Regions from separate parts of the Homo sapiens genome. Here region 1 is linked to region 2. The links come from fine-mapping of genetic effects on gene expression. Tissue or cell type: lung. Region 2 holds a variant in brackets; the other region holds the start of a gene. All regions are shown on one strand. Distances are between the middles of the regions. Region 1 holds the start of TYW3 (tRNA-yW synthesizing protein 3 homolog). Region 2 overlaps TYW3 (tRNA-yW synthesizing protein 3 homolog).

Region 1 (8,000 bases), 26 kb before region 2:
CAGTCAACCTCTTGATGCTGTTTCCTCATCTGAAATCTGGGATCCCACTCAGAGTTACGTGCTAGAGACGTGGCAAGCACCAAGCACAGAACTTAGCAAACACATGATCTTGTATATAGTAGACATCATTATTGTTTTCCCCTCTATTCTTCTTTTCAATTTCTGAATCATAAGGATTGCCTGAGCCTAGGAGATCAAGGCCAGCCTTGGCAACATGGCGAAATGCCATCTCTACAAAAAAAAAAAAAAAAATTATCTAGGTGTGGTGGCAAGCACCAGTGGTCCCAGCTACTCAGAAGGCTGAGGTGGGAGGATTGCTTGAGCCCAGGAGATCAGGATGCAGTGAGCCATGATCCTGCCACTGCACCACTCCAGCCTGGGTGACAGAGTGAGACCCTGTCTCAAAAAAAAAAAAAAAAGCAGCAGACTAGAGAAGTCATTAAAATGTTATGAAAAAAATATACTCTATAGTTCTATAATCATCTTTAATATAACGATATTTACAGAACTCTGGTTATCAAAACAAGCTCTTATTCTCAAAGAATTCGGTCTAGAAGATGACTTAAACAAAACATTAATACTAAATATTGGTTGTTATGCAATGCGTATTTTTCTGAACCTTAACTGTACATGAAGTGGTGTGTTAAACTCAGAGAACACAAAGAGCAAGAAGAAAATGCCCCACCCTGCCCCTAGCTTCTGTAAGCTGGGTGCTCTCTCTCTCTCTCTCACACCTACACACATAGCCTATGAGATGCTTGCTTTTTCCATTTTCGATATCTACCTACTTCCTACATATTTCTTTCACTCACATCTCATGATTACCATAAAAAAACTGTTGTAATAATAAAAGTAAAATTACTCTGAAATAGGATCTGTATCTTTCCCCCCCCACATTTTGGCATTGGCTAAGTTGGGAGAAAGGAATAAAGGAAGATGACTCATCCTACTGGATTTGGAAGACTCATCTGCTTTGCCCAGTACTATCTGACTACATTATCCTATCAGGCTTGAAAGTGATGGGGCATGGCCTGACCACACTATCTCCTACTTTGCTTCTGTTGATCTTATCTCCCACTGAGCCTTTAGCATTCTGATTCATCAGGCTCCAACCTGCACTCATTGCCTTTGAACTCACCTATCCACGGGATCATCATATGCTTCATAACGATGAAGCCTGTCAAAGGAGATTACACAAAGAATAAAATAACGTGGCATACTGATGGCAAATAGGATAATACTTAAAATCCTGTAATACCGGATTTCTTCTAAAAAGCATAAGTCTTCCACCTCCATTGACTTAACTGTTTTCAGAACAGGTAGAGAAGTTATTTAAACTATTATTTTATGCAGAAGTAAAAATAAAATCGCCATCCATTTTATGGATGAGAAAACATCACAAGAGGTTAAGAGACTTGGTCAGGGTCACACAGAAGCAAAGCTAGAACCCAAGTCCTGTAATTAAATGGTGTTAGCTGATTTTTTTCTTTACCATCCTTTTCATCTCACCCTTTGAGATGCTGGCATATAAGACCCTTTACTTCGTAGAAATAAACTTTACAATAGTGATAGTGAGACAGATTGAGCTAGAAAATGTGAAATCAAACTAACCTGCAGGTAGAATCGCATATTTTATGACTAAGGCATCTGCTTAGAGTTTGAAATTTCTCAAATGCCCACTAAGTCAGGGAATGCAGCAGAAATACAAAGGACATGATTCTATTTTTAAAAATGTATAAAAAAAAATTACTCCCTAGCATCGGATCCTTGTGAACAGGACAGGCCTTTCCATTGCTTGTGCTTTTTAATTAAACTATACTTCAAATAGGCCTTCCTGTTTATCAAATATAAACTTTTAAAAATTAAGAGTCCCTTGGTTTAATTTTTGGTTTAATTTTACCTCTGAAAGGTTGCCAATATGCCTTACAAATCTAGGAAATAGAAAATCTAAAATCCCTCTTCCAACAGTGATCTTTTTCCTGGCTATGCTTGTATCCATTTGATTTAAACGAAAATTAAAGGAATTGGGAAAATGTTAGGAGTATATTTTAACATAGGATGAACAGATCAAGTCACAAAGCCAGAGCAAAGGAACATTATGAGACAAGAGCAAAAGTAAAATTAAATAAGAATTCTGGCAAGAATTTTAAAAACTGAAAACTTAGAAAAAAAATCAATCATTACAAATTGTTCTGCTGCTAATACACAATGACTCATGTAAGCATATGGTTTATTATTAACCCAGAAATGTAAAAAAGGCAAGAATTACAAGTGGTCAGAGAAAGTCTCTTCCTGGCTGTGTGATCTTATCAGGTCACTTCTGTTCACTTGAGATAGGACGGGGTAAGAAGAGGGGAGGAGTTTAATAATTTCGGACTCCTCCAGGTTCCATGATCGTATGGAACAGGGCAGTCTGTTCCCTAATGCTGGAGGAGTAGAGCTTGGAGAGATTTGCTGCTGAACTCGCTGCGCTAACCAGACACGTAATCACAGTGGCTTCAGAGGGACTCGCACAACAATTTCCATTAGCTACGGACAAGCATTCCAAACTTTAGCCTTTAGGTTTAATCATTGACACACCTTCCCTGGTCACTGAGTCTCCTCTAGAAACTCAGTATAAACATCCAACGATGTGTTAACAGGGTGTTTTGTAATTTTCTTTTGAAGATTATTCTAGGTGGTGGGCGTCACAGGGTCAATAAAACTATACATTTCTCTCAAAGACTGCAATCCTGATGGCAAAGCTGGAGGAAGCTCCGGGAAACCTGTAATTGTGGGAATCCAAGACAAAAAATCCCCCACAGCTGGGCTGTGGGAAGGGGCCCTACCTAGGAGAAGAAATCAAATCCCCTACAGCTGGGCTGTGCGAAGGGGCACTACCTAGGAGAAGAAATCCCCTACAGCTGGGCTGTGGGAAGGAGCCCTACCTAGGAGAAATCCCCTACAGCTGACAGGTGGGCTGTGGGAAGGGGCCCTACCTAGGAGAAGAAATCAAATCCCCTACAGCTGGGCTGTGCGAAGGGGCACTACCTAGGAGAAGAAATCCCCCACAGCTGGGCTGTGGGAAGGAGCCCTACCTAGGAGAAATCCCCTACAGCTGACAGGTGGGCTGTGGGAAGGGGCCCTACCTAGGAGAAGAAATCAAATCCCTACAGCTGGGCTGTGCGAAGGGGCCCTACCTAGGAGAAGAAATCCCCTACAGCTGGGCTGTGGGAAGGGGCCCTACCTAGGACAAATCCTCTACAGCTGAGAGCTGGGCTGTGGGAAGGGGCCCTGGACAGACCGCTGGGCGCTGCTGCAGGAATCCCCAAACCCAGGCACTGGCTGCAGGGAAAAATCAAGCGGGTGACTGGCGGGGGGGGGGGGGGGGGGTGCAGCGTGGGGCTGGGGGACAGGGAGTGCGGGGGGCGGAGGCTGGGCAGGGGTAGTGCCAACGGACACCTCATGGTGTGGTAGCCTAAACTCAGAGCCTAAACGCAGGACCAGGGCTAGGAGCCCAGGACCAGAAGGCAAAACTTCCTACCTGATTTATGGATGGGAACTTGCAGCCCCTGGAGGGGAATGGCTTCGGTCTGGAGCTCTACGCACTAGTTCTCTGGGAGGACAGAGGGCAGGAAAGGGGTGCAGCCAAAATCAAACTCGGTTCCACTTGGACGAGCAGTGGGGAGATTCGCTGTCTAAACAACTAAGGAGAGTTTTTAAAACCACTTACCAGAATCTAGAGTGGGAATTAAAATCTGCGTGGGCTTCTTCAGATTCCACAGAAATGAGGACTGCCACACCTTCTCCAACTTTTGCAGGCTCCACCCAGGATGTGCGCCTCGCTCCACCCAGGATGTGCGCCTCTCTCCACCCCTAGGCGAAGGCACTAGAATTTCCCAAATTAAGAACGAAGAGGAAGTTTGGACCTTTTCGGCCACCGCTCGCTTCAATATGGCTGCCCCCAGGGAGAGACGAGGCTACCATGAAGGAGCCGAGCGCAGACCCTGAGTCCGTCACCCATGGATCGCAGCGCGGAGTTCAGGAAATGGAAGGCGCAATGTTTGAGCAAAGCGGACCTCAGCCGGAAGGGCAGTGTTGACGAGGATGTGGTAGAGCTTGTGCAGTTTCTGAACATGCGAGATCAGTTTTTCACCACCAGCTCCTGCGCTGGCCGCATCCTACTCCTTGACCGGGTGAGGCCCCTTTGCGCCTGTCCATCGCCTGCCTTCTAGTGCGAAACTTCAGGAGCCCTGTTCCCATCCAGTGACGACCGGATCCAGCATGTCTGTGTTTGCTCCTCTGAGGGGTGGTCTCTGTTTCTTTATATGTGAAATTTAGGGGATTAGATCAGTGCTTCTAAAAGTTTAACGTGGCTATTAATCAGCTGAGCATCTTTTAAAATACAGATCCCGATTCTTTAAGTGTAGGGTAGGGCCTGATACTGTGCATTTCTAACAAGTGCCCAAATGATGTTGAAACTGCTGACCTGGGAACTATCTTGTGTGGCAAAGTTTAGAAAATTTGATTTTATTATATGAATACTAAGGGAATCTAAAGACTTTGTAGCTTGCTAAGGTATTGAATGCCGGAATCCGCTCATCAACAGCTCTGGCAAATCATTGTTACTGCATGCTTGAACATCACCAGTGTTAAGGAGTTTACTGCCTCCTAGTGAGCCCCTCCATTATTACAACTCTAGTAGTTTTACGCAGAGAAAAGTACGATCGTATATAATTTAGGATGGTTAGACTTTTTTTTTTAACTTTATGATGGGTTTACAGGGGTAGTAAATGCATTTTGACTTACATTTTCCACTTATGACGGATTTATTGGGATGTAACCCCATCATAAATCAAGAAGCAGCTGTACAAGCCATACCTCCTTATTTGCAGGTTCAGTTACCCCAGTCAACAGCAGTCTGAAAATATTAAATGAAAATTCCAGAAATAAACAATTAGTAAGTTTTAAATTGCATGCTGTTCTGAGTAGCGTGATAAAATCTTGAGCCAACCAGCTCCTTCCAGAATGGAAGGTGAATCATCCCTTTGTCCAGAATATTCCACTATATATTCTTGCTGCCCTTTAGCTGCTTGGTAGCCTTCTGGGTTATCAGATCGACTGTGGTGGTATCACAGTGCTTGTGTTCAAGTAACTCTTATTTTACTTAATAATGGCCCCAAAGTACGGGAGTAATGATGCTGGCGATTTGGATCTGCCAACAGTAAGTTTTAAAGTGCTTTTTTGAAGTGAAAAGGTGAAAGTTCTTAAGGAAAGACTTAAGGAAAGAAAAAACAGCATATGCTGAGGTTGCTAAGATCTACGGAAAGAATGAATCTTGTCAGTGAAATTGTGAAGTGAAGAAGGAAAAAGAAATTGATCTGAGGTTTCAGGCATCCACTAGGGGGTCTTGGGACATATCCCCTGAGGATAAGGCTGCTTGGGAGTGATACTGCTTAGATTAAAAACCACGGGCTATGTGACCTTAGGAAAGCTATCTCAACTCTGCCCCTTCCTGTTCTATGAACTGAGGATAATAAAAAGTATCTGCTTTATAGGGATTTTGTGTGGAGAAAATAGGATAATTTTTTTTGAAATATTTGGCTTTGTGCCTGGCCCATGCACTGTAAAAGTTGGCTGTGTACTGATTTTATTCGTAGTATTGGCTTAAGAGCATGGAAGACAGCACATTGTTAGGCTCATTCTTTAGGTCCATTATTGACTGATCATTTATTTGCTGATCTCTCAAGTTAGCAGGGCCTGTTCATTTTTAAATCACTTCCATCACCTTCAGAGCAATGGCATTCTTGCCCACAAACTCTCTCTTGCCCCATTTCCATAACTCTGTCTCGCCTTGATTTTTGCAATGGTTCTCTAACAAGCCACTTAACTATTCTTCTCCAAACCATGTTTGACAAATTGCAACTCTGCTTATCTCTCACCTATGCTATGTTTTATTACACATTTTTCTACATCAGAAAATCCAAATGCTTACTCTAGTATACCTTTCAACCTTTTTTTCATTGCTTTTCTTCATCTTTAGCTAGTTACTGAAACTAAACTGTTCTTTTCATCTTGTATTTACTTGCTTTTGCTCATGTTTTTTGGCGGTTTTTTTCCTGAAATGTTTTCCTATCTCTGCATATCTGAGACATGATTCCCAAAACTCCCCTCTCCCACCTGAACCCACAAACACATACTACCTACTTGGAAGTAATGACTGCTTCTGTACTGGTTAGACTTTTATTTCTTATCTTACACCTCGTATTATGGTTTATTTTAAAATCTGCCTTATTTCAGTAAGGATTTGGGGCAACTTACAAACAGGCAACACAAGAAAAAATAAAAAGTGGGAAAATCTGGATAAAGAAAATATAGATAAGATGAAGCCAGCGATGGCATTAGTTGCCAATCCCACCACTAGATCCTGTAAAGTTGCTAGAAGTGGGCCATACATTTGGCTCTAAGATTCAGAGTAGCCAGCACAATGTCAGATACGTAAGTCACCATCACCGAAGTCATACAATGAAGTCAAAATATTTATTTAGGACATGCATAGCAATTCCCGGTTCCAAGGGCAGACAGCAGAGTCTCTTGTGGATCCATCGTATAAATTATAGTTACTTTGAGTATAGTGATTTCTGTTCATGTGGTTTCCTGCATCCCCTTTCCAGTGTCCTTGAGGGGTAGGTTCTGTGTATACCCAAAGTACCTAATAGAACTTTGCAAATAAACATTTGTTCAATTTAAGTTAATATTAAAATGTTTGCCTTCATGAAACTTTGACCTTTCAGTCTTAGCTCCATCCTTCAGGACTACATCTAAAGTCTAATTCAGAGGTCACAAATTTATGCCTCTAGAGACCAAGGAAGTATTATAAATGTGTAAACGGCATAGGTGACAATAAAGGGTAGTAGGTCTTGTGTGGAATTGGGACAGTGCTGTCCTACAAAAGAAATTAAAATTATTTTTTTTTCATTTTTAAATACTGTGCTAGCCAAATAGCTAGAGTACAACTCAGGTGCTGCTAGTATTATCCCTTATACTAATCCCTTTTTTTCTTGCAAAATCATGACCATATTTCAGAAGATGTTTATCAAGTAGTTTTACCTTTCACATAATTTTCTACCTCAAGTTATTTGGGCTCATTCTTATTCTGGGTTAACATTACCCAAAAACATACCGAATTGTTTTTATTAATACTTAAAATCCTGACTTGGGATTATTAATTTAAGAAAGCCTACAATATACTATGCATTATGCTTATTATTTTTGTAAAATATTATATGAAACTTAAATTATGTTATTTTTTATTTTAGGGTATAAATGGTTTTGAGGTTCAGAAACAAAACTGTTGCTGGCTACTGGTTACACACAAACTTTGTGTAAAAGATGATGTGGTAAGTTTTAAAAAATAAATTTGGAAATAAACTTTTAAATTCAGTTACTTTAAATACATATGACAAGAATAGAAAATTCAAGGTAATTTATATGCAGAGTTATAATGGCTGAAGATTATAAAACCTAGAGAGCTTTCATTACAATGGCTCTTTTTGGGTTGTAGGAGATAAAAAGTATGGAAGCATTACTTACTGCTACTCAACAAAACACATCCTCTTGGACACAGCAGAAAGTTCATGGATATTGGACACCTATTGGATCCAAATTTTGAATTTTAATTCTGCTATTTGAAAACCCTGTAACCTAGAACAAATTATGGAAAGAGAAGGGGATTAGCACTATCTCTGTGTTACCAGCTTTACTGATATAAATAAATAATACATTACTTACCTGCATTGCTTTTTGAAAATCTTCATATCTCTGCTGGGTTATTTAGTTTCCTAAGGTAAAGAGTTTAGATGAATTCATAAGTTTTTATCAGCCAGGCACTTTTCATTCCCAGTGAATTTACAAATCCAATTCTGTTTTTAGCAAAAAAGATAATTTATTTAACTGGAAAGGGCGAATGGAGCTAGAATCAAGTATTGCTGGTTCAGATGTTCAAATCTTGTCTTCAGAGT
Region 2 (8,000 bases):
TCACTGCTTTCAGTTCTGTTGGATATATACTCAGAAGTGGTATAGTGTAATCAAAGAAAGCATATTGGAAGAAGTCACTGAGCAGGGCCTAAAATGCAGGCAGGGTTTTTATATGAAGAGCTCTGTGGGAGGGGGAAATAGCATGATAGATAAAAAAGAAGAGCATGAACAAAGGAAAAAGAGATAGTGATATGGTTTGGCTTTGTCCTCACCCAAATCTCATCTTGAATTTCCATGTGTTGTGAGAGGGAGCTGGAGGGAGGTAATTGAATTATGGGGGCAGGTCTTTCCTGTGCTGTTCTTGTGATGGTGCATAAGTCTCACAAGATCTGACGGTTTTAAAAACGGGAGTCGCCCTGCACAAGTTCTCTTCACTTGCCTGCTGCCATGTGAGACATGCCTTTCACCTTCCACCATGATTGTGAGGCCTTCCCAGCCACATGGAACTGTAAGTTCATTAAATCTCTTTCTTTTGTAAATTGCCCGGTCTCGGGTATGTCTTTATCAGCAGTGTGAAAATGGACTAATACAGTAAATTGGTACCACTATAGTGGGGCACTGCGGAAAAGATACCCAAAAATGTGGAAGCGACTTTGGAACTGGGTAACAGGTAGAGGTTGGAACAGTTTGGAGGATTCAGAAGAAGACAGGAAAATGTGGGAAAGTTTGGAACTTCCTAGAGACTTGTCTAATGGCTTTGACCAAAATGCTGATAATGATATGGACAAGGAAATCCAGGCTGATGTAGTCTCAGATGGAGATGAGGAACTTGTTGGGAACTGGAGCAAAGGTGACTCTTGTTATGTTTTAGCAAAGAGACTGGCAGCATTTTACCCCTGCCCTCGAGACTTGTGGAACTTTGATGTTGAGAGAGATGATTTAGGGTATCCGGCAGAATTTCTAAGCAGCAAAGCATTCAAGAGGTGACTTGGGTGCTGTTAAACACATTCAGTTTTATAAGGGAAGCAGAGCATAAAAGTTTTGAAAACTTGCAGCATGACAATGTGATAGAAAAGAAAATTCCATTTTCTGAGGAGAAATTCAAGTCAGCCCTAGAAATTTGCATAAGTAATGAGGAGCTGAATGTTAATCCCCAAGGCAATGGGGAAAATGTCTCTAGGGCATGTCAGCGGTCTTCACAGCAGTCCCTCCCATCACAGGCCCAGAGGCCTAGGAGGAAAAAGTGGTTTTGTGGGCTGGGCCCAAGGTCCCTGTGCTGTGTGCAGCCTAGGAACTTGGTGCCCTGTGTCCCAGCCACTCAAGCCATGGCTGAAAGGGACCAATGTAGAGCTTGGGGCTGTGGCTTCAGAGGGTGCAAGCCCCAAACCTTGGCAGCTTCCATGTGGTGTTGAGCCTACGAGTGGACAAAAGTCAAGAATTGGCATCTGGGGACCTCCATCTAGATTTCAGAAGATATATGGCAACACCTGGATGCCCAGATGGAAGTTTAGTGCAGAGGCGGGGCCCTCATGGAGAACCTCTGCTAGGGCAGTGCCAAAGGGAAGTGTGGGGTCAGAGCCCCCACACAGAGTCCCTACTCGGGCAATGCCTAGTGGAGCTGTGAGAAGCGGGCTACCATCCTCCAGACCCCAGAATGATAGATCCACCGACAGCTTGTACTGTGTACCTGGAAAAGCCACAGACACTCAGTGCCAGCTTGTGAAGGTAGCCAGAAGGGAAGCTGTATCCTGCAAAGCCACAGAGGCAGAGCTGCCCAAGACTATGGGAACCCACCTCTTGCATCAGCATGATCTGGATGTGAGACATGGAGTCAAAGGAGATCATTTTGGAGCTTTAATGTTTGACTGCCCTGCTGGATTTTAGACTTCCATGGGGCCTGTAGCCCTTTTATTTTGGCCAATTTATCCTATTTGAAATGGCTATATTTACCCAATGCCCACACCACCATTGTATCTAGGAAATAACTAACTTGCTTTTGATTTTACAGGCTGATAGGCAGAAGGGACTTGCCTTGTCTCAGATGAGACTTTGGACTATGGACTTTTGAGTTCATGCTGAAATGAGTTAAGACTTTGGGGGACTGTTGGAAAGGGATGATTGGTTTTGAAATGTGAGGACATGAGATTTGGGAGGGGCCAGTGGGGCAACCTGGTGGGAGGTAATTGAATCCTGGGGACAAGGTCTTTCCTGTGGTGTTCTCATGATTGTAAGTCTCATGAGATCTGATGGTTTTAAAAACGGGAGTCTTCCTGCACAAGCTCACTTTTCTTGTCTGCTGCCATGTGAGACCTTCCACCATGACCATGAGGCCTCCCCAGCCACATGGAACCATAAGTCCATTAAATCTCTTTCTTTTGTAAATTGCCCAGTCTCAGGTATGTCTTTATCAGCAGCACGAAAATGGACTAATACAGATGGCAATATGTAAGCCATAAATAGGGATCAGTGAATGGTTCGGTTTACCTAGAAGATGAGAGAGTAAGAATTTCTGTTGTATCACTTTGCTGCTTTTCTTCCTGCTTGTGATGTTTCTTCTTAGTTTCATTGTAGGTTTCTCTTCTTCCTCTTCATTAAATACTGTTCTCCAAGCTTCTGTCCTTGGCCCATGGCTTCAACTAGTTCTGCTACTTTTCCATGTACTGGCAGGTCTTCTAAATCTTTCTAGAGTCTTGGGCCAACATATCCAATAACCATTTGAACATATCTAATTAAAATCTCTCACCAGCTTTTCCTTAATATGTTTCTTACCTTATTCTAAATCCCCCAGCCGTTTTCTTGGTTCCAATTCTTATCATCATTTACCAGCCATTTTCATGGTTCTGATTCTTATCATCATTTACCAGCCATTTTCATGGTTCTGATTCTTATCGTCATTTACCAGCCATTTTCATGGTTCTGATTCTTATCGTCATTTACCAGCCATTTTCATGGTTCTGATTCTTATCGTCATTTACCAGCCATTTTCATGGTTCTGATTCTTATCGTCATTTACCAGCCATTTTCATGGTTCTGATTCTTATCGTCATTTACCAGCCATTTTCATGGTTCTGATTCTTATCGTCATTTACCAGCCATTTTCATGGTTCTGATTCTTATCATCATTTACCAGTGCAAAACAGGTATTTCTATTACATTGAATTACAATTACTTAATTGCACATCTTTTTTTTCCACTGCAACATGGTCACGTTGAAGATAGGACTCCCCCCACCAGCCCCCAACCTTACACACATACACAAACACACTTGAGATATCTTATCCTACAATGTAACATGTATCTGGCTCACAGTAGAAGCCCAAGAAATGTTTATTGAATTAATGATAAAAGATAAAGGAGCTTGAAAGTTAACACATTATATTGAGTTCTCCAAAGGCAAAAACAGTTTCTTGTTCATTATATTCTGAGTGTCTGGAATGAGAATAGTGGTTAATAAATGTTCACAAATTTAGTTGACTAGACTTTTTCATAAATAGTGCTACTTTTTTTAAGGCTTCAAAGCATTAGGATGCTTATTCTGGAAGACCTGTCAGATGGTTTAGAGATGGGGTGAGTACAAGTAGGCTCTTTCTATAGCCTAAGGAAGAAGTAATAGGTCCCTGAGTAACAAGATGAATGAGAATGAGACTGCAGAATATCCATCAGACATGGCAGCAGGTTGGAAATAGGGGTAACACAGAGAAGGAGGACTAAAGAATAAGAGCTGTCTTAGATTCCTCATAGTTGCTAGTCTTTATCATTTTTCTTTCTTTCTTTTCTTTTCTTTTTTTTTTTTTTTGGTAGAGATGAGGTCTTTCTATGTTGCCCAGGTTGGTTTCAAACTCCTGGCCTGGCCAGAAGTGATTGTCACACCTTAGCCTCCCAAAGTTTTGGGATTATAAGCATGAGCCACTGCACATGGTCAAGTCTTACCATTTCTAAAAATGGGTCTAAAACAGCTAAATAAATAACACACATTTCCCTGTATAGTTGACCCTTGAACAACATGGAGTTAGGGTTACCACCCCCCTATGTAGTTGAAAATCCACATGGCTTTTGTTGTTGTTGTTTTTGAGACAGGATCTCACTGTCACCCAGGCTGGAGTA[CA/C]GTGGCATGATCTTGGCTCACTGCAACCTTCGCCTTCCAGGCTCAAGTGATCCTCCACCTCAGCTTCCCGAGTAGCTGTTACTACAGGCATGTACCACCAAGCCCAGATAATTTTTTGTATTTTTTTGTAGAGATGGGGTTTTGCCATGTTGCCTAGGCTGGTCTCAAACTCCTGGACTCAAGTGATTGCCCGCCTTGGCCTCCCAAAGTGTTGGGATTACATGCATAAGCCACCGCACCTGGCTGACATATGACTTGACTCCCAAGAAACTTAGGTACTGATATCCTACCTTTGACTGGAAGCATTATTCATAACATAAGCAGTTGATTAGCACATGTATTGTATGTTATATATATTGTGTACTGTATTCTTACAATAAAGTAAGCTAGAGAAAAATGTTATTAAGAAAATCATAAGGAAGAGAAAATATATTTATTATTCATTAAGTGGAAATGGATCATCACAAAAGCCTTTGTCTTCATCGTCTTCACCTTGAGTAGGCTGAGGAAGAGGAGTGGTTGGTCCTGCTATCTCAGGGGTGGCAGAGGCAGAAGAGGTAGAGAAGGTAGAAGGAGAAGCAGGAATATTTGGTGTAGCTTTTATTCAAAAAAAATCTGCATGTAAGTGGACCTGTGTAGTTCAAAACCATATTGTTCAAGGGTCAACTGTATACTTAAGACCAAATAAGTAAATAATATAAAGCGAAAACATATATTTTATTTTCTAGTAGTGTTTCCTGGGACATCCCCCATGCCCCCATCTTTTTTCCTCCTAATTCCTCTCTTAGCACATTGTCAGCTTCCATTCATCCTTGCAGTTCAGCCCAGGCATTGGATCTTATAACGGAGAGCATTTTGTGATTTCAGTTAGAGCACTGTGTCCCATCTTTTTCATGGTGTGTTAAATGTGGCTTTACAGTTCTGTAGCTCCTGTTAAACCATGAGCTCCTTGAGGGCACAGACCACAGACCACTTCTCTGGGCTTCTAGTACTGGGCACTTGGCCTGTCACATACATGTTGTTTTTTAAAGAAAATGCTAGTTAAAATCTAAATACATATTAGAATAGCCTTCTTTGATATTTGTGAATGATGGAAGCCTAAAGGAAATAAAATTGTGCCTCAGTTTCCTCAATTCTGTGTTTTTGTTTGAGAAGTTAGAGAAATTCCAGCTTTCTGTTGAAAGTGGTTTTCTAACTGACGTTGAAAAACAAGAATTCATTTTCTCAGGCTTGGCCTGAAAACTTATGAAGAGAACTAAGTACAAGTTGTCCTATGCTATGATAATCTTGACTGCAGAGGCAGAAAAACTGAAGGCTATTTGCTTTTCTTTCAAGGAGAGAAAAAATACAGTTGCCTGAACATACTTTTTTTTTTTTTTCCTTAAATCTCAGAGCTCATTTTGTTGCCTGTGAGAGTTCAGAAAATTGCACTTTTGAAAATCAGGCTTAAGTGTTACTGTATAAGGGGAGAACATAACTTTTGACTTACTGAGTACTGTTTCTCAAAGGACTTTTAAAGTTCTCTTAGAAAAGGGAAAGGAAAACTAGTATTTGAAGTTTTTATTCAGGAAAGGATCTTTGTTCCATTTTACCAGTTGTTTTGGTACCCTAAGGACATAGCTTTGAATTCTTAGGTTCTTTAATGGTTGATTAAAGTAAGGCATACATTCCTTTTTAATTACTTTTTTTTAATGTGATGGATGAGGCATTTTTCACAAGCTGTTAATTCTCGGTGATCATAAAGGAGCAATTTAATCTTATCTTTCATTTTCTAGGAAGAAAGTATAATCCAGAAAAAAACACTCAGTTACCTAAGCCTAAAGTGCAGGGTTGATAAAGAATGGTAGAAGATGAGGTTGTATAACAGGGATGGCGTCTTATGATCAGGATGAGCCACACCATCTTGTGGCATGCTCAGATTTATGTTTTAGATAACGTTAATGTAAGTCATTCTGAACAGGCTGTGTGGAACATGAGAAGGATACCAGTCATTGACATCACCTAAGATGGTGACAAGACCTAGAAAGAAAGATCAAGTCAAGCATAGAAGTTTTCATCAATGTAAGGAACCAAACATTATTGGTAGATGACATGAGGGGCAGATGGAGGAATTTGGGAAAATGTTGATGAGCCGGTTTTATTCTGACCTCATCTCTCAGCTCTGTGGTAGCAGGATATGGAAAACATAAGCAGTCTCCGCTTGGGAGGAATGATGGAAGATGGTGTCTACAGGGGAGCCAGGTTTCAGTAACGGAAGGATGTAAAGGGTGCATTAAGTGAAAGGATGTTACCATGGAACAAGGCCCAAAAAGTTATGTATGTCACGCATCTCAGTCTTTTTAAATTTAACTCTGTGTCTGTTTTTGAGATTAATTCATTCATTGATAAAAATATTTATTGAGCATCTGTTGTTTGCCAAGCACAGCACTAGATATCAAGGTGTACAGTGATGAGTGCATAAGTTCTTGAAAATGGACAGGATGTGTACTCATCATGTTGTATATGTATTAGAGTTAGGTGACATATTTAGGAATATGTGGATATTTGGAGTTTTGGAGTTTTATAGGCTTCGTAAGTAGAACTTAGCCTGTTTATTGAATCAAACAAAGATGAAAATTGGTCCAAATAGAGATCTATTCTGTAGATATCAAAAATTTCTTGCCATAGTCTCCCATTATAATAGGACATAAAAGTAAGATGAGATCTCTGCAGTGGCAGGGGGGTTTCCTAACTTTCAGATCATTCTGATTTGAGACCTAGGATAACACATTTATAGTTACATTTTTATTCTGGGGTTATTCATTCATTTATTCAATATAGTCTTACTGAGTATGCCAGCACTCTACTACATGCTCAGAATATAACAGGAGACAGGTAGATAGGATCCTTGCTCTCATGAAGTCTATATTCCATAAAAGTAGTCATTTTTGATAACTAACTCTCTGGGTACTTACATATATCATCTGTAATCCTGTGACAACCCTGATAGCTACAGGATAATAATATCCAGCTTTATAAATGTGAAAAATCAAGACTGTGGGAAATTAATTGGAATTAGCTGACATCACCTTTCCTAAAAGAATGTTGGTGTCAAATGCATGCAACACACCATGCTATGCTGCCTGCTGCAGGCTACTGTGTCAAGCAGAGTTTTGTGTTAGGTGTTAACATGAGGGTAGAAAAGAAATGAGGCCTGGTTTTCAGAGAGCCTACAGTTTATTGTATCACAAAACTAACACTAAAACTCCAATAGAAAAATGAATAAAGGGAAACAATAATTTACACTAAAAAATTCAAATAGCTAATAAATGAGAAACATTGTATTTTACTTACAAAGAAATGAAAGTTAAAATAATGCGATATCATTTTCACCCATCCAGGTAGAATGTGTTTTTTGATGGGAATATTCAGTGTATAGGTGTAGTGATCTCTCTCAAGTGCAGCTATTAGAAGCGTATTTCTTTGAATATCTATTGTGAAAACAAGCAGTATTTATCAAGAGCCTTGTAATGTTTATGCCTTTTAACGATGTAATGATATTTCTAGGTGTCTATATAAAGAAATGGCTAAAAACTCACATCACATCATTTTCAAAAATGCTTACCACATTTTTGTTTGTATCAGGGAAAATTTGAATGTAAATAAAGGCCAATCTAGATGACATAATGTTGTACTGCCACTCTCAATAAATAATAACTTTGAAAAAACAATGTAAAACTTTATATGTAATATTCTAATTGTGACAAATAGGTATATGGATTAATTAATAAATACATTAATTCAGACTACATTAATAAACTGAAAAGAAAAATATTGAGAGGAGTTATTTCTAGTTATGTAGAGGTGATCTGTATTTGTAACCTCACACATTATACAAATTACCTAAAATGAGCCATTACATTTATGTAATAATAATTGCATTCTTTTTTACCCTCTTCTTTGACCCCTACATTTG

Evidence for each region. PIP is the estimated chance that this variant, and not a neighbour inherited with it, causes the effect.
Region 1: TYW3 starts here. The variant in region 2 is fine-mapped to the expression of TYW3 in lung (TOPMed, PIP above 0.99). The same link has a PIP of 0.9 or more in whole blood.

Annotation. Positions count from the first base shown.
Region 1 is chr1:74,729,244-74,737,243 of GRCh38, forward strand. It overlaps TYW3 (tRNA-yW synthesizing protein 3 homolog), which reads left to right and starts at 3,909. Exons shown (of 6, transcript NM_138467.3): 1 at 3,909-4,175; 2 at 7,299-7,379. The coding sequence starts at 4,002. It overlaps CRYZ (crystallin zeta), which reads right to left and starts at 3,807. Exons shown (of 9, transcript NM_001889.4): 1 at 3,713-3,807. RefSeq lists enhancers at 2,604-2,893, 3,489-4,199, 3,754-4,043, 4,424-4,523.
Region 2 is chr1:74,755,654-74,763,653 of GRCh38, forward strand. All of the region lies in intron 5 of TYW3 (tRNA-yW synthesizing protein 3 homolog), which reads left to right. Among named protein-coding and RNA genes, the nearest start is that of TYW3, 27 kb to the left of the region's middle. The variant CA/C (reference allele first, on the strand shown) is at 4,045.